3 separate regions of the Homo sapiens genome follow, and all the other regions are linked to region 2. The links come from fine-mapping of genetic effects on gene expression. A gene starts in region 2. Each other region holds a variant in brackets. All regions are shown on one strand. Distances are between the middles of the regions.

Region 1 (8,173 bases), 53 kb after region 2:
TCTCACCTACTTTAATGGTGAACAAATAAGAAAATAGACACAAAAGAGTCCCTATTATAGGATTCCATTGGTCTGAAGTTCTAGAAGTTGTTGACTGTGCTCTGGTGATAGAAGACAGAGGTGATCTCGATGGCAGTGGGCAGAAGGATGAGGGAACTTCTGGGAGTGACAAATGTTCTTTGCCTTGATCTGTGGTCTCATGTGTGCATACACATGTAAAAATTCATTGAGCTACATAATTGTAATGCATGCATTTCACTGAATGTAAATTACACACACCCCCCCTCCCCCAACACACACACACACAAAGTGGCAATGGAGAGAGGATGGTGGCTCCAACCAGGTTGTAGTACGGTTGGGGGGCAGGAGGGAGACAGAGGGCCTGGAGAAACTGTGCTCCCTCCGGGCTCGCTACATCCAGGCCTGGGCCACCTGGAATTCCAGCCACCTCCTGCCCTTCCTGTGGTCCCTCACTTTGGGTGGGGCAACTGGGATGGGCAGATGTCCCTTCATGGGGACAGGTGGCCTGGGGAAGTGGTTATTGACTTCAGGGACCTGGCTTGTTTGTCTAGCGGGGGAGGGGCTGGCGGCGAGCATCACAGGACCAGATTCCTGATTATAACTTCATAACGGGCACTGGTGATTCGGGAGGTGCTGATATTTATGGAATAAATACAGTGCAATTTATGGCCGTATCTCCCTCTGATGTCCCATCTGATATGCAATTCAATTTCTTTTATTGTTTTTGGGCTTTTGCCATGGAGGAGAATGCATAAATAAATAAATATGTGGGCAAATGGCAGCCGGCGGGCCAGGCCGGGGCTGCCAGCCCGCCGTCTCCAGTCCCATATTAGGCCCATCGATCACACGTTATGAAGCCGGAGCCTGTCCCCCGGCTGGGATGAGCAGCAGACGTGCCGGTCACTCCCTGTTATTTAGGGGCCTCCGTTGGCGGGCTGCCCTGCCTGCCCTCTGCGTGCCACTGGGCCGTGGTGTCCATACTCAGGACCCAAGCCCATGCCGCTCTGCCACTCGATTGCAGGAATCCTGGAGGATTCTGCCCAGGGCCCAGGAGGGCATGTCCCAGCCCTTCTGTGGGCTGAGAGCACTGAGGACTTCCCCCTGCCCTCCTCTCCCATGGGAACCCCACGCCCCACAGGGTGAGGCTGCCGGGCTCTCTCACAGGCACCTTCCTGCTTCCATGCCCAACGGGCATGCCAGAAGTTCCGTTCTGGAGTCAAACCACATCTTCAAAAACCAAGCACCAGCATCTCTGAGCCCTGGGACCCTCGGTAAGTCCCCCATCCCTGCGCCTCGCTTCTTCATCTGAGCACAGGAGAGCAGCCTCTGTCCCAGGGCTGCCTGGAGGATGGCGGGAGGCCCTGCATGCGTGGGCACAGGCCAGGCACCCACTGCACAGAGTCGGACGGGGACCGTGCTAGCCGTGCCAGGTGCGGGGGATGCGCGAACCGGCCGACAGCGGCCCAGCCCTTCGCGGGGCCCTGCCCTCGGAGTCACAGAGAGGCTCAGTGGCTGAGCCTGGGGTCATCATTGATCCCCAGGACTGTCCCCTGCTGGGGACCGGACACCAGCCTGTGGGAGGACTTAGCTGGAGAGGCCACAGCCTCTCCTCGGTCCCCATCTCGGGTGGACCCCTGGGCTCCGAGATTCAAGTGGGCTGCCGAGTCCCTCCCCGTGCTCTTGGGCCAGCCACTAGCCTGGAGCCGCCCACTTCCTGCTGAGTCCCTCCCCGTGGTCTTGGACCTGCCACTGGCCTGGAGCCCCCCACTTCCAGGTGCTCCCATCCTGTGTCTCCCCGATCCCAGAGCACCCTGGGCCAGGCTGGGACTTATCTACAACAAGCTCACAGCTCCGCTCCTGCATAGCTCCAGTGACCACCACGGGCCTCGCTCCGCCACCAGTCCCAGCCGCCTTCCTCCTTTGGCTGTGCTGAGGGCTCCTGCGCCAGGCCTGTCCCCCTCAGGGCCCCATGGGTCCTGCCACACACACAGATACATCCCACAGCCACACACCACGTGCACACACACATACGCACCCACAACACACGCACACACACGCCGCCAACATGCACACATGTACACACACACAAACACACACCAACACACAGATACCCTTCCCACGTCCTCCCCTCACAGATCCCAGTGGAAACCCGATAGCCCCCAGCACATCCTTGAGACACGTGTGTGCATGAAAATCAATTTGCAAAGAATATCCCCATTGCAGAGACGGGGGTGGGGACTGACAATAAACTATGGAGAAGACTGATCTCCGCGGAGACCTGAAGGGGAAGACAAGGGGCTGCAGTGGGGAGGGTGCTCCGAGCAGAGGGAGCGACGTGCATGTGAAAGCTCTGGCAGTCCTCACATAGCTCCCCAAGCAGGGGGAGACCTAGCCGGACACTGAGGCTGTGGACTGTCCTAAATGGGGTTTGTCCTGGAAGCTGGGAGAAGTGGGGAAGGACAGGGCCAGGAGGCTGCTAAGAGAGTTGGAGAACTGGGTTTCAATCCTGCCTGACCCTCTCAGGATCAGCGATCTCAGGCAAAGCCCTCTGCTTCCCTGAGCCTCAGTGTTCTCATCTGCAGCCTGGGGGCAACGCCCCTCCCTCATAAGATCATCTTGAGGATGAATCTGGATGGTTTGTATGGCAGGTGGTGGGGACGGAGCCTGGCCCAATGGGGGTGAGCAGGAGGGGTCACCTCTCTGATTCTGACACAGCGGGGGGTGCCCCCTAACCCCACCTACTCTGAGTGGCCCCCATTTTTACCCTGTCCCGCGGAGGGTTGGGGGTTATACTGAATCCACCTCTCTGTCCCCCAGGGGCCTCCACCAGGCCGTGCCTCCTGGGCAGGCATAGACTTGGCAGCTTTACAGTTTTATTTTCTGAGCCCCCTCGCCTGGCCTTCACATCAGCCCCAGCAGGCGGCAGAAATTTCCCGCGGCCTATGCAGGGCCCCATTTGCGCATCGCCGGGAATGCTAATCGGCTCCTGGCGGTCCCAGGCGGAGAATCCCGCCTTTCCCTGACATTTGTAAAGTTCACGTTTTCAAAATAAAGCCACGTGAAGGGCGAGGCACTCGCAGATCACTTCCCTGTCACCGGCCTGCTGGCTCCTTCCCTGCCCTTGGCCTTCACTCCCCCGCTTAAAAGCCATCAGTCCTGGGAGAACAGCCACCCCCCTCCCCGAGCTTCGCTGGCCAGTTCCTTTCTCCCAGCCTTCTGCCTGCTTTCTGCCCTCCCTCCCTCCTTTCACACACTCACCCATTCACTTGTTCTTTCATTCTGCACTATTTATTGAGCACCTAGTGCACATCCTTCCTGGGTGTATGTCAAGGACACAGCAGGAAGCCCCAGGATTCTTGTCCCCAGGAGCTGACAGTCAAGTGGGAAAGAGGGACATGAAATACTCACTTAATGACAAGTGTGAGAAATGCCACAAAGTTGGAAGCAGGGGAGGTGTCACAGGGTTGGGGCACCAGGGACTGCTTCCCTGAGGAAGTGGCATCACCCCAGGCCTAGAGGAGGAGCAGGAGTCAGCCGCCACCCCACCCTGGCGAGAAGAGGCAGAAGGGCATTTCAGGACCCGCGGGTGCAAAGTCCTGGGATGGGGGGGCCAGGGATGCCTGAGGGTCTAGAAGAGGCCCGTGAGTTCTGGAGTCTTAGGAGCTTCAGCTCAAGAGATCCCCTTTACCCGAGGGGAATGGGGGCCCTGCAGGGTCGTGCCAGGCCCCTGGTGCGGACTGGGGTCCTGCTCAGGTGAGGCTCAGTGCACGTGGCGCTCAGATGGCCAGGCCCTAGGGCAGCCGGAGCTGTGCATGTGCCTCCCGTCCCTGGATGGGTTCTGCTGACTTACACTTGGGTTATAACTGGGTTCTGGTGACTTATAATTGCTGTTTCCTTGTCCTCAGCAGAAAGAGCTCGGAAACGAAATTATTGTTTAAGGACAGCCTCCCTGCAGTGAGAACTGCTGGCGAAGACCAGTGTCTTCCTCCTGCAGCCGCACAGCAGCAAGCGAGGCCGAGCTCATGGCCTGAGGGGGCAGACGGGCCACAAACAGACAAGCAAAAACATGCCCAGCAGGTGCGGTGAGGGCTAGGGGGGAAAACCCGCAGAGTGGCAGGGGAGTCCTGGGGAAGGTCAGCAGGAGGGTCTGGGACGGCCTCTCCATAAAGGGATGCAGAAGAAAGTGTGGGAAGAGCGTTCCAGGCACGAGGAGCAGCAAGTGCAAAGGCCCCGAGGTGGAAACGTGCTCTGTGTGATCGGGAAGGAGGCCCGTGTGGCTGCAGCCAGCCCAGTGGGCAAGGGGACAGGATGGCAGGTGTGGTCACTGAAACCAGAACTGGGTAGGGGGCAATCAAGTAGTGCCTCCTGTAGGGACAGTGAGGCCCGCAGAGCTGGGGCAGAGGCCGCTGGAGAACCCAGGGAGGAAAGGCTCTCATTTGAAGCAGCACACATTCACCCCTGACTCCCGCTTCATTGATTCACCATCATTCATTCACTCTCACTCATTCATTCCTTTTCTGTCCATTCTTCCGTCCACTTCCCATTCATTTGTCAGCTTTCATTCATCCCCTCTGCCTTTTGTGAGCATCTACCCTGCCACCTGCCCAGGGGAGGAGTCAGACCCACTCCCTGCCTGCCCTCAAAGGGCTCCTCGTCTGTGGTGGGGTCAG[A/G]GGTACAACAAAGCCCACTGTAGGGGCCTGAGGTGTTTAATCCACCCACGGGATGGGTTCCTGGATCCCTGGCCGGGCCCATCTGTGGGTGACACGTGGCACTGTGAGCTGTGGGGGCCGTATCTGGGCACTGGGCAGGGGGTGCTGTATCAGTGTGGACGTGGCTGCCAGCATTTTATAGGGAAGTGCCAGGCCCAACGGAAGCTGCTGGGGACCCTGGGTCCCCAGAGGAAGTGGCAGTGGGGGCCAGCAGGGGCCAGAGGCTGGGGCTGGAGCCTCTCACTGGTGGGGGGACAGCCTGGACCCCTGGGAGAGCCTTGGGAAAGGGAAGCCACTCTAGGCAGGCCTCAGAGGACATCCTTTGCTTCCCTTTATCATACAGATGGGAACCCTGAGGCCCAGAGAGGGGAAGGGACCTGCCCAAGGACACACAGCGTGGGAGGGGCCGAGCCAGGAGAAGTCTGGCCTCCTGGGTTCCTCTGGGCACAGAACTTCAGCACTGACAACGGCTTCCCCATCTCCCCCAGGCCTGCTCCTGGACCGGCGACCCTGTCTGAGCACAGCACGCCCACCCAGGGCCCAGCCAGAGACCCAGAGCCAGCCTCAGCTTTGCTCACCACCCCGCCAGCCCAACTGGGTGATTTTCTGTCCCCAGTGCCTTCTGGCACAGATACCCCCATGCCCAGGGGCCACAGTTTGCTTCCCGGGTCCTGCAGACCCCAGCTCCTCCCTGCTCCTGTTTAGGCTACCACCTCATTCTCCTCGGGTCCCTGCAGCAGCTGCCAAACCATTTCTGCTTCCACACCACCCCCAGCGGGCCAATCTCCCTGCACATCCCAAGAGAAAATCTTCCCACAGCTCCCCATGGCCCCCCGGTGAAGTCCAGGCTCTCCAGCAGGATGTCCTGGGCCCTTCTTGGCTCCCCTTTTCCACCCTCCCCACTCCTCAAATGCCCATCCTCCCACCCCCATCCTCCGCTTCTGAGCCTTTCACATGCTGCTGTCTGCCTGGGATGCTCTTCCCCAACCCCTTTTCCTGGATACTCCATTCTCCTCCAGGTCTCAGCTGAGACTCCACCTCCTCCAGGAAGCCCTCCCTGATCTCTCCAGACTGTGTTAGGCATCAGGTCTCCACTCTCACTGCCTGGTGCTTACAGCCTTGTGTTGTTATTAACAGCTTCTTGGATCCCTAAAGTGCAGGGACAGTTTCATCATTATTCATCACTCTGTCCCCTGTGTCCAGCCCAGGGCCCAGAGTGTGGGCTGAGTAAACATCTGTCCAGTGGATAAAGGAATGAATGAATGAATGGATAGATAACCACGTTTATCTCCTTTGTAGCCCAGCCTGTGGCCCCTGCACCACCGAGAAGGGGACATCCTTTATTCTTCTGAACCCCCTGAACTTGAAGGGCTGCCCAGGGCTGACTCATCCAGGCCCAGACCCACCTCAGGCTGAACACAGCAGGGAGGTTGAGACAGTTGCTAGACTGAGTAGTGACATGCCCTGAGGCCAGTCATGTCCCTTGGCCTGTCTAAATCTGTTAACTCTGTAGGAGGAGATGCTCCGTGAGGGTGACAGCTGAGGGGCCCCCTGTCAGCTCCCATCAGCTCCCTCTCCATCCTGCCTCCCATCTCATCTTGCAGGTCTCCAGTGAGCTGTCACCTCCTCTGAGAAGCCTCCCTGATTGCTCACCCCCTCATGGAGCTCATCCCAGCCCTGTGTCTATTTCCTTTGCGGCTCTTACCGTGATCAGTCACTAACTAATTCACCAGGTTGCTTCCTGGGTCACTGTCTGTCTTCCTGATTCTCTGGGGAGCACCATGAGGTCCCAGACAGTCTATCCCCTGTACCTCAGCAACCAGCCCAGGGAGGGCACAGAACAAATGTCCCCTAAAGTAATAGAATGAATGAATGGATGGATGAATGAATGAATGGAGAGCAAAGTGGAAAGGCGCACAGGCTCTGGGGCCGGGCACACTGGGGTGTGTACACGGCTCTCTGTTGCTGACGAGCAGAGTGGTCCTGGGCAAGGAGCTGTCTCTGGCTGGGCCTCAGTTTCCCTGTCTGCAATATGGGGAGAATAACAGTAACTACTTGTGGAGGTGGTGCACTCAGCCCAGGTCTGACTCCCAGGAGGCCTCTCAGGGGGTGACCTTGTCCTTGCTCAGAGGGGCAGGGCAGTGCCCAGGGATATGCTGCAATACAGACAGATGGGCGTGGGCCTAGCAGTGGGATCCTGGGGGCTGATGTCGCCAGTTGCTAACTTCTTTCTTCCACAGTTGTCCACAAGCCCTTGGCAGACCTCCCAGTTTTCACTTCCTGCCCTTGAAGCCTGCCTGCAGAGCAAGTGATGTCTCCCCACCGAACAGAAGGGAAGATCGAGACCCAGGCATGCGGACAGAGAGCACAGGCTTAACAGAGCCTCTGAGCCAGACCTGGCATCCTGGGAACCACCTAGACCAATGCTCTTGCTGTCCACATGGGGAACTGAGCCGCCCTAGAAGGGCAGAGCCCCACCCAAGATACCACAGTGAGTCTGGGCTCCAAAGCTGCAGGGTGGGGGCAGGGGGAGCTGCCTTTCCCCTCTGCGCTGTGCCCCCAACGCTGGGCTCCAACGAGGCTGCAGAGCTGTCAGGAGAGATCAGCAGGGCCCTGGCCGATCTCCCCAGATTTAATTAACAGGCCTTTCATCTCTGTCCTGAAGGAATCAGCTCTCTTCTGTCTTCTTAATTAACGTTCATTAAGCAAATCAGAACAACAGGGTTTTTCTCCCTTCTTTCTTCTCCCGGAAGGTTTTAACCCTTAGTAGGTGGGCTTCCGGGAGGGAGCCTGCTACCTTTGCTGGTAGCCCAAGCACAAGGCCAGGCCTCTGCAGGAGCCCCCTAGGTCCCCAACGCAGGCACATTCCTTATCGGACACATACACACACACAATGGACACACACACACATTGGACACACATGCACACACTCACATATCAGACACATGGGACACATACACACACATCGGACCCACACACACATCGGACACACACACACAACAGACCCACACACACATCGGACACACACACACAGGACACACACACACATCAGAGACACACACACATTGGACACACACACATATTGGACACACACACATATTGGACACACACACACTCACATATCAGACACATGGGACACATACACACACATCGGACCCACACACACATCGGACCCACACACACATCGGATACACACACACATCGGACCCACACACACATTGGATACATACACACATCAGACACACACACACACATCAGAGACACACACACATTGGACATACACACATATTGGACACACACACTCACATATCGGACACATGGGACACATACACACACATCGGACCCACACACACATCAGAGACACACACACACTGGACACACACACACACATCAGAGACACACACACACACTGGACACGCACACATATTGGACACACATACACA
Region 2 (8,173 bases):
AGTCCAAATCGGCAACTTGTCCAAGGTCGCCCGACAAAGAGTAGCTGAGGCTGGATAGGGCTGGGACAGATGGGGCCCAAGGCGTTTCCCAGAAATGGCTGCACTTGGACAAAGGTCCTTCAGGACCTCCGGACCTGGGCTATACCCACTCACAGCGGGTGATTTCGGTACCCTGAGAACCACACAGCCTGGACACTGCAGTCCCAACTGGGGCTGAGTGGGCTGAACCAAGAAAGGGCGGCCAGCCACCCCTTAGGCACTTGTCTGCTGTCCAAGAAGACCCAGGTTTGAGTCCCAGCTCCAGCTCTTAGTCTCAGTTTCCTCATCTGTCAAATGGGTTCATCACTCCTGCCACCAAGCTCCTAGGGTGGCTGTGACTAAGAAATGAATCTTAGTCGTGGCCTGTGACCTACTGGTGCTTGGAGTGCGGCGTCAGCGTTATGCTCCCAGAGGAAAATCCCCGTTAAAGAACCTCGGCCAGGCCCCGTTTGTAGGAACCAGATGTTCAGATGGCGTTTCCTGGGGGGCAGAGAGGAGACCGGGACACAGCCAGCCTGTGGAAGGGACAGGCTGCTGCGAGAGGCATCCTCCTCATGAGTACACAGTGCTTTGCAGTTTGCAAAACACACCAGTATGTCACGTGGCCCCCATAACAGCCCTTGTGAAATGAGGAGGAAGCGAAGATTGCTGTTCCCACTTTACAGATGGTGAAGCCCAGGCCCAGAGAGGAGGAGTAACTTACCCAGGGCCACACAGCATGTCAGTGGGTGAGACAAACCTGGCCACAAGGGAGGAGAGAAGGCTGGCCCAGGAGAGGGCAGGCCCAAGGGAACCAGGGCAAGCAGTGTTCTCTCTTTCTTCTGACAGTGGCCACAGGAAAGGCCTTGCCTCTTGTCTGAAGCTTCAAACAAGCCCAGAGCTGGCACAGGGAACAGCCTGTCTACATGCTGGGTCACCAAACGGGCGGGGAGGGGAAGCGGGTGCTTGCTATTGGCCCAGGCTCTTGGAGCAACAGCCCTCGAGCTTCCTCCAATGCCAAGGGGCAGACAGCTGGGCTGTGTGGGGGCTGAAAGCTGTGCCCCCAGGGAGCAGCAGAGGAAGGCGGGGCCCGGCCTGGAGGCCTTGAAGCCACATTTCAAACACATTCCCCAGAAGGCACCTCCCCTTGAGACAGACCAGTGCCTGCTGGCCGTCTCCTGAGGCTCTTCCTGGCCGAAGCGTCATGCAGTGCCATTCAGCAAACGCTCTCAATGCCTGACCTGAGCTGCCTGGAAAGAATGGAGCTTGGGCCCAGGGAGAGATGCAGAGATGGGCTCCAGAGGAGGGTGTGTCCAAAGGGATCTCCTGATGCAGGAGGGGCCCAGGACAAGGCAGCTGAGTGGCACAGGCTAAACACTACTAGAACTTAGAGACATAGCCACAGGGCATCAGGAAGTCTTCCTGGAGGAGGTGGCAGCATTTGAGCTTGATTTTGAGTATATGTAGGGTGTCCCTGAGTGAAGGGGTGTGTGTGTGTGTGTGTGTGTTTGTGTAAGGCTGGGGAAGCAAACAAGATGACACAGAAAAGATCTGGAAATGGAGCGGCGTGGTGTGGGGCCCAGGGTTGGCAAATAACAAACAGTCACTGCCTGTAAGGGACCAATGGGAAGGCACAGTATGCCAGGTTAGGGATGGCCTTGGAGGACAGGTCTAGAAGTTAAGACAGTTCTTGCTAAGGGGGAGAAGTCAGATCTCAGCAGGAGGGGACTTGTTATTTTGGGGTGGCTTAGGTGCAGACCTGACCTAAAAGAGGGGCGCGACCACCCCGGAGAAGCAGTGGGATAGGTGTGTGGTTAGACCAGAGTTTGAATCCCCACTCTCTTGCCAACGTGCTGTGTGACTTGGGCATGTTCCGAACCTCTCTGATCCCTGGTCTGTGATGTGGGAACGCACTGGCCCCCAGCCTGTTTGGAGAAGTGAGGTAGTGCCGATGAATGGGAAGGGGCTTTGCAAACCGCAGAGGGCTGGGCCCTTGTGCCACGGCAGTGTCACACCAGGAAGAATGAGCAGGTTGCAGCTCCTGAGAGGAAGGGACCACCAAGGGCTGCCCGTGCCGCCCCCTCCTGCAGCTGCAAGCACGAACTGTTCCTTCCCCAATGACATCTGTCTGGAAGAAATTTAAAATTTAAAATGGGCAGCCCTATTCTCTCCTCTCCTTGGTGAGCGAGCGGCCTCCTCGTTTTCGCCTGCCTGCCCCAGTCCCTTGGCAGCCCAGCCTGGGGCAGCCCTGGGGCTCCCCTCCGCCTTGGCTTCGGGACTCCAGCCCCCTTGCTGGCCAGCCCAGGTGTTCTGCCCTCACCCGCTTCCACCGCACAGCCCTGGGCACCCTCCAAGCCCCACCTCCACTGCCCCTGAAGAGGCAGCAGGAAGGGAGGAATGAGTCAGCCCTGGAGCACACAGACAAGGGTTCAAATCCCGACAGAGCTGCGTGGCCTCAGGCAGGAGCCAACCATCTCTGAGCCCTGCTTTCCTTGTCTTAAAGTCAGAAAATCACAATACCCAGCGTTCCTGCAGGAGATGAATCTTTATTGATCCCCTACTGTATGCAGGGCCCTGGCTAAAGGGAAGGATGCAGAGGAGATTCAGGGGGTCAGGTTCAGGACCAGGTGCCTGGCACAGGGTAGCGCCCAGAGTGGAGATTCTGTGGGTAGTTAAGATGCCCATTGTAGAGGTGAGGAAACGGAGACTCAGCAACGGGGCTGATTTGTCTGTGGACACACAGCGAACTGTAAGTCCCCGCCTCCCTCTGCACCCGCGTGCACCAGGGGGCTGCTGGGGGTGCGGGGACGCGGGAGACCTGGCCCGCAGCGCGCGTGGCTCCTGCAGGGGTGCCGCCCCCACCGAACCTCGAGTTCAAGCCTCGGCTCGGGGAGGAGGAGAGGAGGGTCCCCATCCCGGCCCGGGCCTCCGGAGCCTCGAAGGGGTGCGCCCCAAACTCCAGCCCCCGCAATGGGTGCTCGCCCCGCCGGCCCGAGCGGCCACCGCCTGGCCAGCCGCCCAGGCCCCGTGTCCCAGCGCCCGAGCGTACCTGCGGCTTGTCGCGCGGCCGGTCCTCAAGTTGGGCAGCGCCGCCCATGGTCTTCCACCGGTCGTTGACCATCTTCCGGCAGGACTGGCGGGGGCGCCGGGCGAGGCGCGCCGCTGCGGAGCGCAAAGGAGACGGGGTGGGCGCGGGCGCGGGCGCGGGGCGCGCTCTGTCCGCCGGGTCCCCGCCTCTGTGCCCCGCGCCGGGGCGGCCCGGGAGCGGGCGGGCGTGTGAGGATGAGCGCGCCGCTGTGTGCGGGCGGGAGCAGGAGCGGGAGCGCGAAAGCCGCCAGCCCAACGCCCGCCGCTCGCGCTGCGCGCCGTCCCCGCTCCCGGCTCCGGCGCCTCCCCGGCGCGCTCCTCTCTCTCCTCCCTCGTCCCTCCTCCCTCCTTCTCAATCTCCGCATCTTTTCTGGTCTCGGACTCTCTTTGCTTTTTATTGCTCCCCTCGGCCTCCCCCGACACACTCACACACACGCGCGCGCTCACACCCGCGGACTTGGATACTAAACTCCGCCTCCGAAAAGACCTAGGGAAAGGAGGCCGAACTGGCCCCCAGATAACGCGGCCGGCCGGAGGGCAGCAAACAGCCGCGGGCGGCCCGGCTCCTGCTGGCTCCCGGAGGGGCCTGAGAGCCCCCCGGCGGCGCCTCTGCACAAACTTCCTCCCGGACCGGACTCACACAAGTCACCATGCGCGGGGCGGGCCCCGAGGGCGCCCCCGCCGGCCGGTTCGGCGTCTCCGGGGAGTGGCGCGGCGCTCCTTCCGGCTCCCTCCCGGCTCAGGACGCAGGGCTCGCCCCAAGACCCAGGCTGCGCCGGGGGCAGTTTCGGTGGGGTGCGCCCCCTGCGGGCCCCCGAGGTCTGGGTCCAGGTCCCGGGGCAAGTGCGCCCAGCTGTGGGGTCTCCAGCCCCCGGGGACCTCCCTGCGCCGGACCCCGACGCGTGAGCCTGGCCGGTGGGCGTCCCAGTCCGCGTCCGCAGACCCGTGCCCTCGCGCCCGCGGTCGGAAAGCCCACACGACGCCCCCTTGCCCGGGCGGCCCGTGGGCGAAATGGGGGTCCCCACCACTGCCACAGCCGCCGGCGCTGTGGTCGCGAGTACCAGCCGCTCCGCGCTCGGCCGCGCTCCCGGCCGATCGCCCGCGCTCCCCGGCGCGCCCCGCGTGGTCCCAGCCCCCGCCTTCTCCTCCGCCGGGAGGGGATTTGTGCCAGGAGGGGGCTTCTTAGTTGCCCCTTCCCACCAGCAGCACTTTTAAAAGCATTTAATCCGCCCGGAGCGGCCTTCGGAGGTAATTGACAAAGTCCTTAATCTGCGCGGCGAACGAGCTGCTATTGTGGCTTCTGACCGGGAGGCGCCCACACTGCCCGACGCCGCGCTCCCCTCCCGCCGCCCCGCCGAGCCCGCCGGCCGCCCCTCCTCCGCCCCTTTCTGCGTCCCCATCTTTTTCTGCTCCCCCAGCTCCAGACAGACCCCCGTTCCCCGCCCCCGCTTCTCCCCAAAGCTGTTTTCCGGCTCCCGGGGCGCCTTGGCCGCCGCGCTGTTCCCTGGCACCGTCTCCGTCTCTCCCCCACTGGCTGCCAGTCTGTCGCCCCATCTTCGTCCCTCTCCCGATCCCTCTACGCGTCCGGCACTGGCGGGGCAGACTGGTTGGGGGTGGGGGCCGCGTCCAGCCTGGGCTGGGGCACTCCCTGGACCCCGGAGCGGGGGACCCTGTGGCCCGGTGCCATCCGAGGAGACTGCCACCCGCCAGGCGCTGGGTTCACAAACCACCGGCTGTTTGTCCCCAGCCGCCTTTTCCTTCCAGGACAACCGCTGGCCTCACCTACGGCCCGATCCCGGCTTCCCGGACTGAGGCTGCCCGGGAGTTGGAGAGGATCCCACAGCAATGGCTGGGAGTCAGGAGACCCAGGTTCCAATTCTGGCCTCTGGCCCTTTCTGGCCCCTCGGCCTTTCCTATGAATTAAGAGGGTCAGCAGGTGATCTAGAGGGCCCTCAGACTTGGGAAGAAGGATGTGGTGGAGGGCACAGGGCCCTGGCTGTGTGGCTGAGGGCAAGCAACATACCTCTCCGAGCCTCAGTTTCCCCATGTAAGCCAAAGGGTTGACTGCACACGCTTCAGAAGGGCTCTGCCACAGTGCATCACAGCACCTGAGCAGGGCAAGGCTCAGATGTTCCTGCTGTGACCTTGGGCAGATTCCACGTCATCCCCAAGCCTCAGTTTCCTCGTAAACAAGGACTTGCCTATTGGTGGGGAGTGGCGAGGTTTGCAGGCCCTTGTGCAGTTACAGGCACAAAGCGGGCAGGTGGCGGAAATGCAAGGCTCTGACTCCACAGTTTGGCGAGAGGATGTAAACTCCAGACGCATTTGTGCACAGATGAAAGATCACCCTGGGGGGTGGAGCGGGGGTGGGGGGCTGAACTGAGAACCCACGGGAGGGGTGCTAAGGACCAACGGAGGAGGTCTTGGAGATGTGCTCAGAGTAGTCAGGGAGGCATCCTGGGATGGAGGGGTGTGAGCCCGCCCCCAAGGCCCATGAAGGCAGCATCCAGAAGTCTGGGTGCTGAAGGAAAGGCATTTCCAATGGCGGGGCCGCAGAAGGGAAGGCGGAGCTAGGGGAGTGACCCGGGCGTACCTGGGCAGGTGCAAACCGGAGGACCGGAGGACGCTCTGGAGGATCGCCTCCCGGGCCTGCAGAAGCGCGGTTGGACAGGTGAGCGGGGGCCACCTAGCGGCTCCTGCTGGGAGTGTTGGAGGAGGTTGGAGGTTGAATCATCTCACCTGCTCAGCCACAGGTTCAGCCTGCGGGAGTGCCTTACGTGTGTGTCTTCGGGAGCGGGCCTCACTCTGTCACCCCCTCTGTGCTGACGCCTCTGCTCAACACCCCAGGAGAAGGGTCAGCCGTGATGCAGGACTGGCATGAGCCTGCAGGCGTCTGCTCAGCGCTTTACACACTGCACTCAGCAGACACACTTAGGACATCGTTCTGGAAGAAGGGAGGGCCGCCCCCATTCACTGGAGCCTCCGAATTGGTGGAGAGGAATAAAATGGAAGTGGATCCCAGAAGCCAGTGCTGACCCACAGCCAAGATCTGTGCGAGAGAAAGGGCAGCCGACCCCACAGAGCAGACAGGCCCTCCACCCTCGGATTTCCCTTTGACAAGGCTGATGACCACAGAGCACTGGGGGCGAGCTGGGCTGTGCTCAGCAGGTGGGACAGGACAGAATCAGGGCTTTCCAGCCAGCCCAAGACTGAGCATTCCTTGTCAGGGACGAGCCAGCACCTCAGGGTGCCAGAACACAGGACCGGGAGGCTGCATGGTATTAGACTCGAGGTTGCCTGGTAACTTGTTCACTCTCTGCGCATCCCCTCACCTTCCTCTTTCTGGCTCACCAATTCTGCCTGTTCCTACTTTGCCTTTCCAAGGCCACCTGGATATGATGGCCCCACCAATGGGCAACTCCTATCTAGGACTGAACCAGGCATATCAATCATAAGTGGCAGATGGCCAAAGACAGCTGTCCTTGGTCAGGTACCAACCCATCAGACCTTGGTCAGGTCCAATGTGGGGGCATGGCTGCTGGGGCCCTAATGCAGGACCCCTCCCTTAGCAGGGAGTGGGTGCAGGGCAGGCAGTACGGCGACATGGGAGGGGTGGAAAAATAGTCCATGGGGAGACAAGGAAGAGCAGCAAGGGACATAGGGGGACAACATTCAGGGTGCCAGCCGTGACCAACAGCCACCTGTTGGAAGCACCCTCACGCTCAGCGCTGTGCTGGGCACCTCATATCCTCCCAGCCCCCTAATAAGTGAATACTATTGTCCCCACTTTGTGGATGAGGAAACTGATTCAGAAAGGTAAATTACATGACCTGGGTAATTGTGTAATTAATAAGATGATACGATCAATATGGGGCCAGGCACAGTGGCTCACACCTGTAACTCCAGCACTTTGGGAGACCGAGGCAGGTAGATCATCTGAGATCAGGAGTTCGAGACCAGCTTGGCCAACATGGTGATACCCCATCCCTACTAAAAATACAAAATTAGCAGGTGTGGTGGTGCACTCCTGTAATCCCAGCTACTCCGGAGGCTGAGGCAGGAGAATCACTTAGAACCTGGGAGGCAGATGTTGCAGTGAGCCGAGATCGTGCCACTGCACTCCAGCCTTGGCGACAGAGTGAGACTGTCTCAAAAAAAAAAAATCAATATGGAATTACCATTTACCAAACATTTCCATGTGCTGGATACAGCAATACCATTAACAATACCATCTTATTTCAAGTAATCCTCACCCAAGACCTGTAAGTGTTATTAATAGCCTCATTTTCTAGATGAGGCAACAGAAGCTCAGAGAGGTTAAGTAACTCAATCAAGACCACACAGCCATTGGTGGGGCAGAATTTTTTTTTTTTTTTAACACGGAGTCTCGATCTGTCGCCAGGCTGGAGTGCAGTGACGCAATCTCGGCTCACTGGCTCTCTGCAACCTCTCGGGTTCAAGCGATTCTCCTGCCTCAGCCGCCCAAGTAGCTAGGACTACAGGCACACGCCACTACGCCCAGCTAATTTTTGTATTTTTAGTAGAGACAGGGTTTCACCATGTTGGCCAGGATGGTCTCGATCTCTTGACCTCATGAATTGCCCACCTCAGCCTCCCAAAGTGCTGGGATTATAGGCATGAGCCACTGCGCCTGGCCGGTGGGGCAGAATTTGAACCCTAGTGTGTGCACTTCCAGAGACTATCTCTCTTTCTTCAATACCTCGGTGCCTCTTCGTCTGCCAGAGCTGGGCCTGAGCCACCCGGTGAGCGTGCTGAGCCAGCATGCAGCAGGGCTTAGCGGACGTGGGCAGAATAGCCAATGTGCCAGTCTCTCGGGGCCTGGGGGACTGGCTGGCCAGAAGGTCGGGACCTCTGGTCCCCATCCACTCAGCCTCTGCCCCGCACTGCCAAGGGTACTCAGCTCTCGCCATAAAGCTGTTTCAACTTGACTCTGACAGTCACATTTATCATTAAAAATAAATGTATCTTGGCTTCTGTGGCGTGGAAAACTACTGTGCAGTGATTCAATGGGCTTGTCACCCCTCACGGTTAGGCACGGGGAGCTGAA
Region 3 (8,173 bases), 46 kb before region 2:
TGTGTGCACACACCCAGCAGTTTCCAGGTCATTTCAAGTCCTGCCTTCGAGGTCCATTGTTATTATTTACAAAACACCAGCCTAAGGTATTGGACATTTTCTTAAAAGGCCAGGCAAGGTGGCTCATGCCTGTAATCCCAACACTTTGGGAGGCTGAGGTGGGTGGATTGCTTGAGGCCGGGAGTTCAAGACCAGCCTGGGCAACATAGACCCCATCTCACAAAAAATACAAAAATAAGCTGGGTATGGTGGCACCTGTAGTCCAGCTACTCAGGAAGCTGAGGTGGGAGGATTGCTTGAGCCCAGGAGGTGGAGGTTGCAGCAAGCTATGATCGTGCCACTGGATTCCAGCTCCAGAGTGAGACCCTGTCTCAAAAAAAATTTTTTTTTCTTTTTTCTTTTTGAGACAGAGTTTCGCTCTTGTCTCCCAGGCTGGAGTGCAATGGCACAATCTCCGCTCACTGCAACCTCTGCCTCCTGGGTTCAAGCGATTCTCCTGCCTCAGCCTCCCGAGTAGCTGGGACTAGAGGTGCGCACCACCAGACCCGGCTAATTTTTGTATTTTTAGTAGGGACGGAGTTTCACCATGTTGGTCAGGATGGTCTCGATCTCTTGACCTCATGATCCGCCCACCTTGGACTCCCAAAGTGCTTGGATTACAGGCATGAGCCAGTGCGCCCGGCCCACCACTTTTTTTTTTTTTTTTTTTTTAAGACGAGTCTCACACTGTCGCCCAGTCTGTAGTGCAGTGGTGCCATCTCGGCTCACTGCAAGCTCCGCCTCCCAGGTTCATACCATTCTCCTGCCTCAGCCTCCCAAGTAGCTGGGACTACAGGTGCCCGACACCACTCCCGGCTAATTTTTTGTATTTTTAGTAGAGACGGGGTTTCACCATATTAGCCAGGATGGTCTCTATCTCCTGACCTCGAGATCCACCCACCTCAGCCTCCCAAAGTGCTAGGATTACAGGCATGAGCCATCGCACCCGGCCAAGCCCACCACTTTTTTTAATGAGAGAGTTTTTGTTACTGTCCTCCTCTGACAGGTAAGGAAGCTGAGAGGCTCAGAGATGTCAAGCAGCTCGGCCAAGGTCACACAACATGTACCAGCTGGTGCCTACCACGGCAGTCTAATCAGTAGACAGTGCAGACAGCCCCAACAGGACCAGGAGAGAACTGTGCCCAGGGCCGGATTTCTCCCTCCACAGTGGAAGAGAAGCAGCCAAGTATTACAGCCAGCCCAGCTCCTTGGGCCGCAGAGATCATCTCAGGAGGCCTTTCTAAACGGAGTGCCCTGGGGAAGCAAACTCTAAACGTCCTCGTACGAGAAGACATTAGGTGAGACCAGGCTGACCACAGTGTCCCTGTCAGCACTGCCCTCGTCCCTGGGGGTCACCTAATGTCTTGCTCCCCTGCCCCCACACTCCAGTTGATATCACTGCTGTAATCAGGGAAATCTCTGAGCTCTTTTTCTGGGAGGGCATTTCCGAGGGGCCAAGGAGCTGCGGATTGGAGGAGCACCAGCAGCACAGGGCATGCCCCTGCTCCCTACCCAGAAGCTGGAAAGTACCATGTCAGGTTTGGGGTCTTCAGTGAAATCTGTCAAGCAGCGTCTTTGGCACTGGGGCAAAGTTAGGATGAGGTGGCTTCCCTCTTGATTACTACAGCAGCTGTCTATGGCTGACTGTCCCCAGGAGCCTGTTTTGTTTGGGGTTTTTTCTTAAATATTTTTATTAGTATTTCAAACATACAGGAAAAGACAAATGTTTTCCATTCATCTTGATAGCTAAATACCTTTAGATCTACACACCAAGATGAAGACCGCCTTGTGTCTTGGATAAATGTAACGAGCAGATGCTGGCAGCTCGCAGGTGCTCTGGGCTGGAGTAGTTAGAACTGCCGGGCCAGGTGGAGTGAGCCAGCACTGCTCAGGGGAGCTTCATCTCTCTGATTCCAAAATAAATGTTTTCTGGAGTCTCAACTTCACCCTCCTGGAGAGGGGTAATCTTATCTGTGGAGGAGAGAGCAAGGGCTGAGGGGGCGCTGGGGTGGCATGAGAGGCCCAAAGACCTTGACAGACACGGTGGGCTTGGCCGCGGGGCACCGGGTTAAAGAGGAGGCTTAGCCAAGCCCAGCGGGAGTTGATTTGACAGCAGTGCCCTTAGCAGCTTGATTGTTCGGATTTTCAGGGCTACTGAGCTCAAGTGTACAAGCAAACTGGAAAGAATAGCTTTGTTGGGTTTTTTAAAGTGATAAAAGCATAATGACAGCATATCCACTGCTTTGAAGGCATCCCCCGCCCCCGTGTTCTTTATCTCAGGTTTTTCCATCAAGGTTAATCTAATCCTGCTAAATTAACAACCAGCCAGTGCATCCCCAAAGAGCCTGTGGAATGTGCAGGGTGGCTCAGCCTCGGTGTTCTCTAAAGTACTGGCTGTGGGTGGCTCCTTGCTCACTTGCAGAAGTTGGCAAGTGACGAGTGGCCAGGGGACCGTGCGTCAGGGCGTCCCTCTGCCCTCAGCCTGCTGTGTTTCACCCGGTCTCTGGTGAGCACATCTCTGGCTGCTTTGCGTGAATGAGCCAAGGGAGGGATAGATCTAGCTTACTGCCTCCCCCTCCCTTAAGCCAAGCAGAATGGGGTGTGTGTGCACACCTGTGGTGAACGAATCTGTCCGTTCACCCTGTGCCAGGGCCGTCCTTACAGCAAGGACCCCGGGGATGTGTCCGTCCCCATCAGTGTCATGTTAGCAAGCAGTGACAACATCCCTTTGCAGGAGGCATCCTGAACCACTCTGTCCTCAGACAGTGGCAGAGCCCAAGAGAACAATGTGCCCCACCCCTCCACCAGCCTCAGGAATCATTGTCTTGTCCCCATCACAGCAGCCCTAAGACTCAGGGCACATGCGCCAAGCCTGGGGGGCTAGTTTCTGTGTGGGAAGCGATGGGGAAGCGGTGAGGAGCTCCTGGAGAAGGTGGCAGCTTTCATACCGGGTGATGTTCTGACTCTGGTGTTCTCTCCCATCTCAGCACCCATTCTGCTCCCCAGTCAGGTTGGTTCTTTGTGGCTCAGATCTGTCACCCCTTAATGAAGTGGCTTTCTGGCTGCCAAGGATTGAGAGCTGCTACTGAGGAGTATAAGTCACTAATAGCATGGAAAACACTGTGAAATACTCCAAGGTGCCAAGCTGGGCCCAGCCCAGTGTGGTTCTAAAAGGCTAATAAAAATCCACCAATTAATTGTGACAGCTCAATGGGAAATTATTCAATTGTGAACAGGGGCAAGCTGCAGCTCGAAAGGAGGAGGGGAGGGGTTGCCATAGTAACATCAATGTAAGTTCTCATCTCAGCAGCGGAAGCCAGCCCGGGAGTGAGCAGCATCCGACCGCCGCCTCTGACACGGGATGGGATGCAGGAGACACCAAAGGCGCGTTTGAAACAGATGCTTTGCCTGGCCCCGGGCCTGCAGCCACTCCCGGCTGAGCGTGGGCTCTCCCCGGGGCAGAGAAGTTGTTTTCCGAATGTTCCTTGCTCTTAGGAAACCTGGGAAGGAGCAGCCGAGTGGAAGTGAAAAGCACATGTGCTGTGTTCCTCCGCCCCTTTGACCGACTGCCGGTTACAGGGATCTAGAGGAGGGGTGTTTGGGTCCAGTCAACAGGAGCTCCATCTCCCGAAAGGCAAGGCACCCAGAACTCAGACTGTGGGGGAGGCCAGCATTCCAGTATGGTTTTGCAGTTGTCACAACTTTTATTTGAAAAGATACACACGACATATTCTGATTTTGAACATGTGAAATGCAACCTTGCTATAGCAAAAACGGGATTCCTTCCCAACGCATCTCCCAGGAGACTCCTGGCCGGGCTAACACTGGGCCGCGGAGAAGGGCTGCGGTCAGAGGGGCAGGCAAACCACAGCAGGGGCTTCTTGCCAGGGGGATCTTGTGCTCATGGCATGGAGAAGGGGATCGGGTTCTTTTTTCCCATTTTTAACTTTCAGAACCATCCTCTGTACCCAGTGGAATGCACTCATTTGCACTCTGATGTCAGCCGCAGTCGTGCCTATAGAGACTGTCACAACTTTGATTACCCAACTGTAAGCACTCAGCCCGCTGCCTCGCTCTGCTATTCACACTCATGGCCCAGCCACAGCCTCAGCTCCGTGCCCCTGGGGCCAGGGGGCTGCTCGGAGTCAAAGCCCCAGGGGAAGAGAGAGGCTGGGACGACCGAGGCTCCAAGACAGCCTCCTTTTTGACACTGCCTAGTTTTTCGCTTCAGCAAAGTTGGAAATCAAAAGTAAGCACACACCTAACCTGTCCTACCATGGATCGTTCATCGTAACCAAGCCTACATCATCTGGGTGTCGTGGTCTTTGAGACTGGGGGAGAAGGCAGGAGTGAAGACAATGGGGGTGAGTCCAAGAAGCAAATCCTTCCAAGGCGTCCTGGCCCTTCACCGCCGACCGAAGCGGAAGCTGAAGCCGCCTTTCTTCCTGCTGTAGCCATTGAGCTCCTCAGCCAGGTTCCCTAACGGGCCGCTGGTCTTCTCCCCCGCAGCAGGGAGGAAGCCGGTGGCCTCACTGCCTTCGTCCTGCCTCCCGAAGCGGAATCTGCAGCCAGCATGCTCTCTGCCCGATGTCTGCAGCCCCCTGGCTATGACAAGCAGGGCCTGTGGCTGTGAAGCTCTCAGCCACCGAGAGGAACCCCACACGGAGTGGGGTCGGGGCCCCATGGCCAGGTCGGCCCAGCGTTCTCCAGCTCCGAGGCCACCCATGGCGTCTGTGGGCTCTCTTCTGTCCAGTAGAGG[G/A]AAGCAGGCGCCCAGCGGCAGGAAGAGGAAGTAGATCAGGGGGTAAGGCCTTACCATCTGACCCAGAGGAAAGAGAGGCAGAGTGACAGGCTGCACACGTGGCCAAGCGCAACTCACCAAAATGTTTCCCCGGGACAGGCTGGCAGCGTAGATGTGAGCAGGGGGCTCAGCTGAGCCCGGCTTCCGAGCAGTGCTGGGACTAGGCCACTGTTTTATTAGCAGGATCAGGAGGTGATTGTGCCAGTTAGGCCGGTTCTTCTCCTGCAGTCCCCACGATCTGCGTGCCTGGGCAGCTTAGCACCGTAAATCCACCGCTGCTGGCTGGCAGAGCAGTGCCCAGGCGGCCCCGGGAGAGTCAGCAAATGTATGCTCATTTTTCTCTTATTATAAAATGGCCATATCATTGCAGAGCCATGGGGTGGAAAGTTAAAAGCATCAATCTCCCTTAGTGTTCAACTGGATAATAAATGGGTCTAGCTATGCTGTTTAGCTGGGACATCCTGCTAATGTCTCTTTCACGTGGGAACGAGTTGCTCCTGAAAGCCAGAAACAGATTGGATGGTCCTGGCCTAATTCGGACACCCACCTGGGAAGGAGTGTGTGGACACCACTGGGGCCTGGGCACCGTAGGTCTGCCAGGCTCTGAGCCAAGAGCTCACACATGTGATTGTACTTCATCTTCATAGTACTCCTGCTTGGTAGGTCCGGCCAGTCCCACTTTTTCAGGCAACAAAACTGTCAGAAAAACTGAGATTGTGCCCAGGCCACACAGCCAGAAAGTGGAGGCTCTGGATTCATGATTCTAATGGCCAGACGGCTTCTTCAAGAAGCATACATATCTGCTAGGTACTCCCAACCCTCCTATTTCACAGGGGTGGTGTCGGTCTCAAACAGCTGAGGTGACTTGCCCCAGATCTCATGGCCTTATCAGTGCCAGAGCTAGAGTTCAATCCCAGGTCTAACTGGGCTTGACTCAGGAAGGCGTGCCCTAACTCCCTCCTCTGTACTCCACATGGCACTCGGGGGATCTGAAACCCAGCCTCCTGTAATGAACCTGCCTTGGTAACACTTGCTCCCTTGTCTGGCAAAGAAAACCTTTTTGACAATGACCGCGGGGGAGCTGGAGCTGGCTTGTCCTCCGCAGAGTCAAACTGAGGCTAGACTAGAGAGCACCGGCCCTGGAGAAGACAGTACAGGAGTCCCCAGAGCCCTTTCCAGAAATGGCTCCCTCGAACACATTTCAAAGAAGCGAGCTCAGCCAGGAAGCTTTTAAAAAAATAATACATGCAACCCCACTTTCTACCCAAATCCAGTTCTTCTAAGCTTTCGTCCCCCAGGGATGGAGTGACCTCCCTCATGCTGCCAGGAAAACCTTTCCATCAGGGCGCAGGCAGAGTGGGGGCTTCCACGAGGTGACTTTCTGCAGCGGCCCAGCCCATTCCCTCCTCCCCATAGGAAGCACTTTGCTGACTGCGATGTGGACCAGGGACCGTTGCATCCTGGTGGATAAATCCACCCGGGAGTGGCCTCTGGGTGTCTAGAAAGGAGACAGCCTGACAGAGCAGGCCCTGGAGTGGCCCTTCACCCCTTTTAGGGGTTCATGCACCCCTTCAAGAATCTGGTAGAAAGTGGGGATGCTCATCACGGGACAGGCGGCCCCAGCGCGAGTCAGGGCTTCAGGCCCCACAGCCAGGAAGGGACAGGAAAAGCACGGGTGAGGCTGGGTCCCAGCCCTGGCAGGGCAGCCGTGACCAATCTGTGCTGCTCTGGGCTGTTGGCAGGGGAGGCACTGGTGTCCCCTCTCCGGGCACTCCCTCCCTGTGCTTCTGTGTGCCCTCTGACTGCCCATGCCTGGCTCCTGCCTGGGCAGGGCCTGAGCTGGGGTTCCTGCTGGGGACAGGGCAGCTATGCTCACCGTGTGGCTGGGACTGCTCCCAGGAAGGCTGGCTGGTGGATCGCTGGGCTCCGGGGCTGGGCTGGGCAGAGCTGCTCTGGGTCCTCGTCCAGGAGGCATGGCCCCTGGGCTCTCCCTGCTTTATATGGCCCGCGGTGCGCTTGCTGCTCTGCCGACTGCCTGCTGCGCATTCCTGACCCTGGGATTCCATTGGGGACGCTGTTGTTGAAGAGGGGCAGTGCTGACCGCGTTGATAAAAACAACCTCACACAGGATGTAGTCTGATGAGAGGGCAGGCGGGCTGCCCTTTGGAGGAGAGCAGACAGCATCATTAACTGCAAATTGCGGGCACAGACCCTCGAGTCCCTTGGCGGGGGTTCCAAGCCCACCCTTCACCCTAAGGGTCCTGCCTTTGCTGGGTTGGCACCTCACGCTCCGGAGAGGACATGGGGTGGGTGGACATCTACCCGACACACCTACTGCCCAGCTTGCAGGATGGCTTTCATGGGCAGGAAAGCCACAGACACCCATGAGGCCCGTGTTTCACAGGCACCGGGCTGCGCGGCTAAGCCAGGTGCACCTCCCCGGCAGGTGGAGCCCTCAGCGGCCTGTTACCCAGGAACCAACCAAGGGGGCACGGCAGATGCCCAGGACAGCAGTGGAGCATTTGCCTGTGGCCCCCAGCCCCTCCCACCGCATACCCTGGGTGGCCCCCTACTGTCACCGAGGGTCACCTCTGGGAGGCCAGCAGGAGGACCCAGCCTCTGCTCCTTGCCCGGCAGAGATTCTCCCTCCACTGAGAGCAGGCAGGGGGGTGATGAGGCAGCCCCACCCCACCACTGTCAGGAACTGAGCACAGAGGGCCTCCCCCATTCCAGGGGCCCTCACCCAGCCGACCTACCCCTGCATCCCGGCTGCTGGGGGATCAGAAGTCATGGGAATAGAGAGCCTGTGGACACTTCCCCAGAGACCTGAGGAAGGCACTGGAATCTCGATCCTCCACTTCGGGGCTGAGCGCCCAGGTTCGGGCGGAGGGTCTGCGGATTGAAGCCGATGACTGAGCTTTGCTGGCCAGAACCAGCTTCCATCCCCCAGGCCAGGGCTGCCTCCGATGGCCTGAGGTGCCCCTGTCCTGTGTGTGCATGTGTGTGTATGCCCCCACATGAGTATGTGCACACGTGCGTACACGTGTGTGTGCTCGTGAGACGGGAGGTGTGGTGTCCTTCTGTCTCCCTGGTTAGTGCTGGTTGATTCTGACAGCGGGCACCAGTTATCCATGGGGTGCCGCCCAGGGTGGGTCTCTACCGTGCTATGAGCCTGGACCGGATGCCTGCCCTCTGGGTGCCTCAGTGCTCCCTTGGTGTAAAGCGAGGTTCAAGTTCCCAAGCTGTGCTTTGCAGAATTCCTCAGGAATGGCCATGGAAGTTGGGGAAGGCAACATGGGGTCCAATCCCGCAGGCACCCCTCTCCTACAGGCACCC

The links.
Region 1: its variant is fine-mapped to the expression of FIBCD1 in whole blood (TOPMed, PIP above 0.99). The same link has a PIP of 0.9 or more in blood mononuclear cells.
Region 3: its variant is fine-mapped to the expression of FIBCD1 in whole blood (TOPMed, PIP 0.99).

What each region holds. Positions count from the first base shown.
Region 1 is chr9:130,988,561-130,996,733 of GRCh38, forward strand. No RefSeq gene overlaps it. Among named protein-coding and RNA genes, the nearest start is that of LAMC3, 17 kb to the right of the region's middle. RefSeq lists an enhancer at 6,528-7,084. The variant A/G (reference allele first, on the strand shown) is at 4,692.
Region 2 is chr9:130,935,469-130,943,641 of GRCh38, forward strand. FIBCD1 (fibrinogen C domain containing 1) reads right to left here and starts at 3,779. Exons shown (of 7, transcript NM_032843.5): 1 at 3,068-3,779. The coding sequence starts at 3,139. FIBCD1-AS1 (FIBCD1 antisense RNA 1) reads left to right here and starts at 4,878. Exons shown (of 3, transcript XR_930398.3): 1 at 4,878-4,974. RefSeq lists enhancers at 3,481-4,411, 5,857-6,076 and silencers at 3,656-3,865, 5,634-5,928, 7,845-8,018.
Region 3 is chr9:130,888,984-130,897,156 of GRCh38, forward strand. QRFP (pyroglutamylated RFamide peptide) reads right to left here and starts at 7,829. Exons shown (of 3, transcript NM_198180.3): 1 at 7,594-7,829; 2 at 6,714-6,998; 3 at 3,724-4,855. The coding sequence starts at 4,855. The coding sequence ends at 4,445. RefSeq lists enhancers at 4,647-5,161, 5,950-6,637, 6,638-7,324. The variant G/A (reference allele first, on the strand shown) is at 4,799.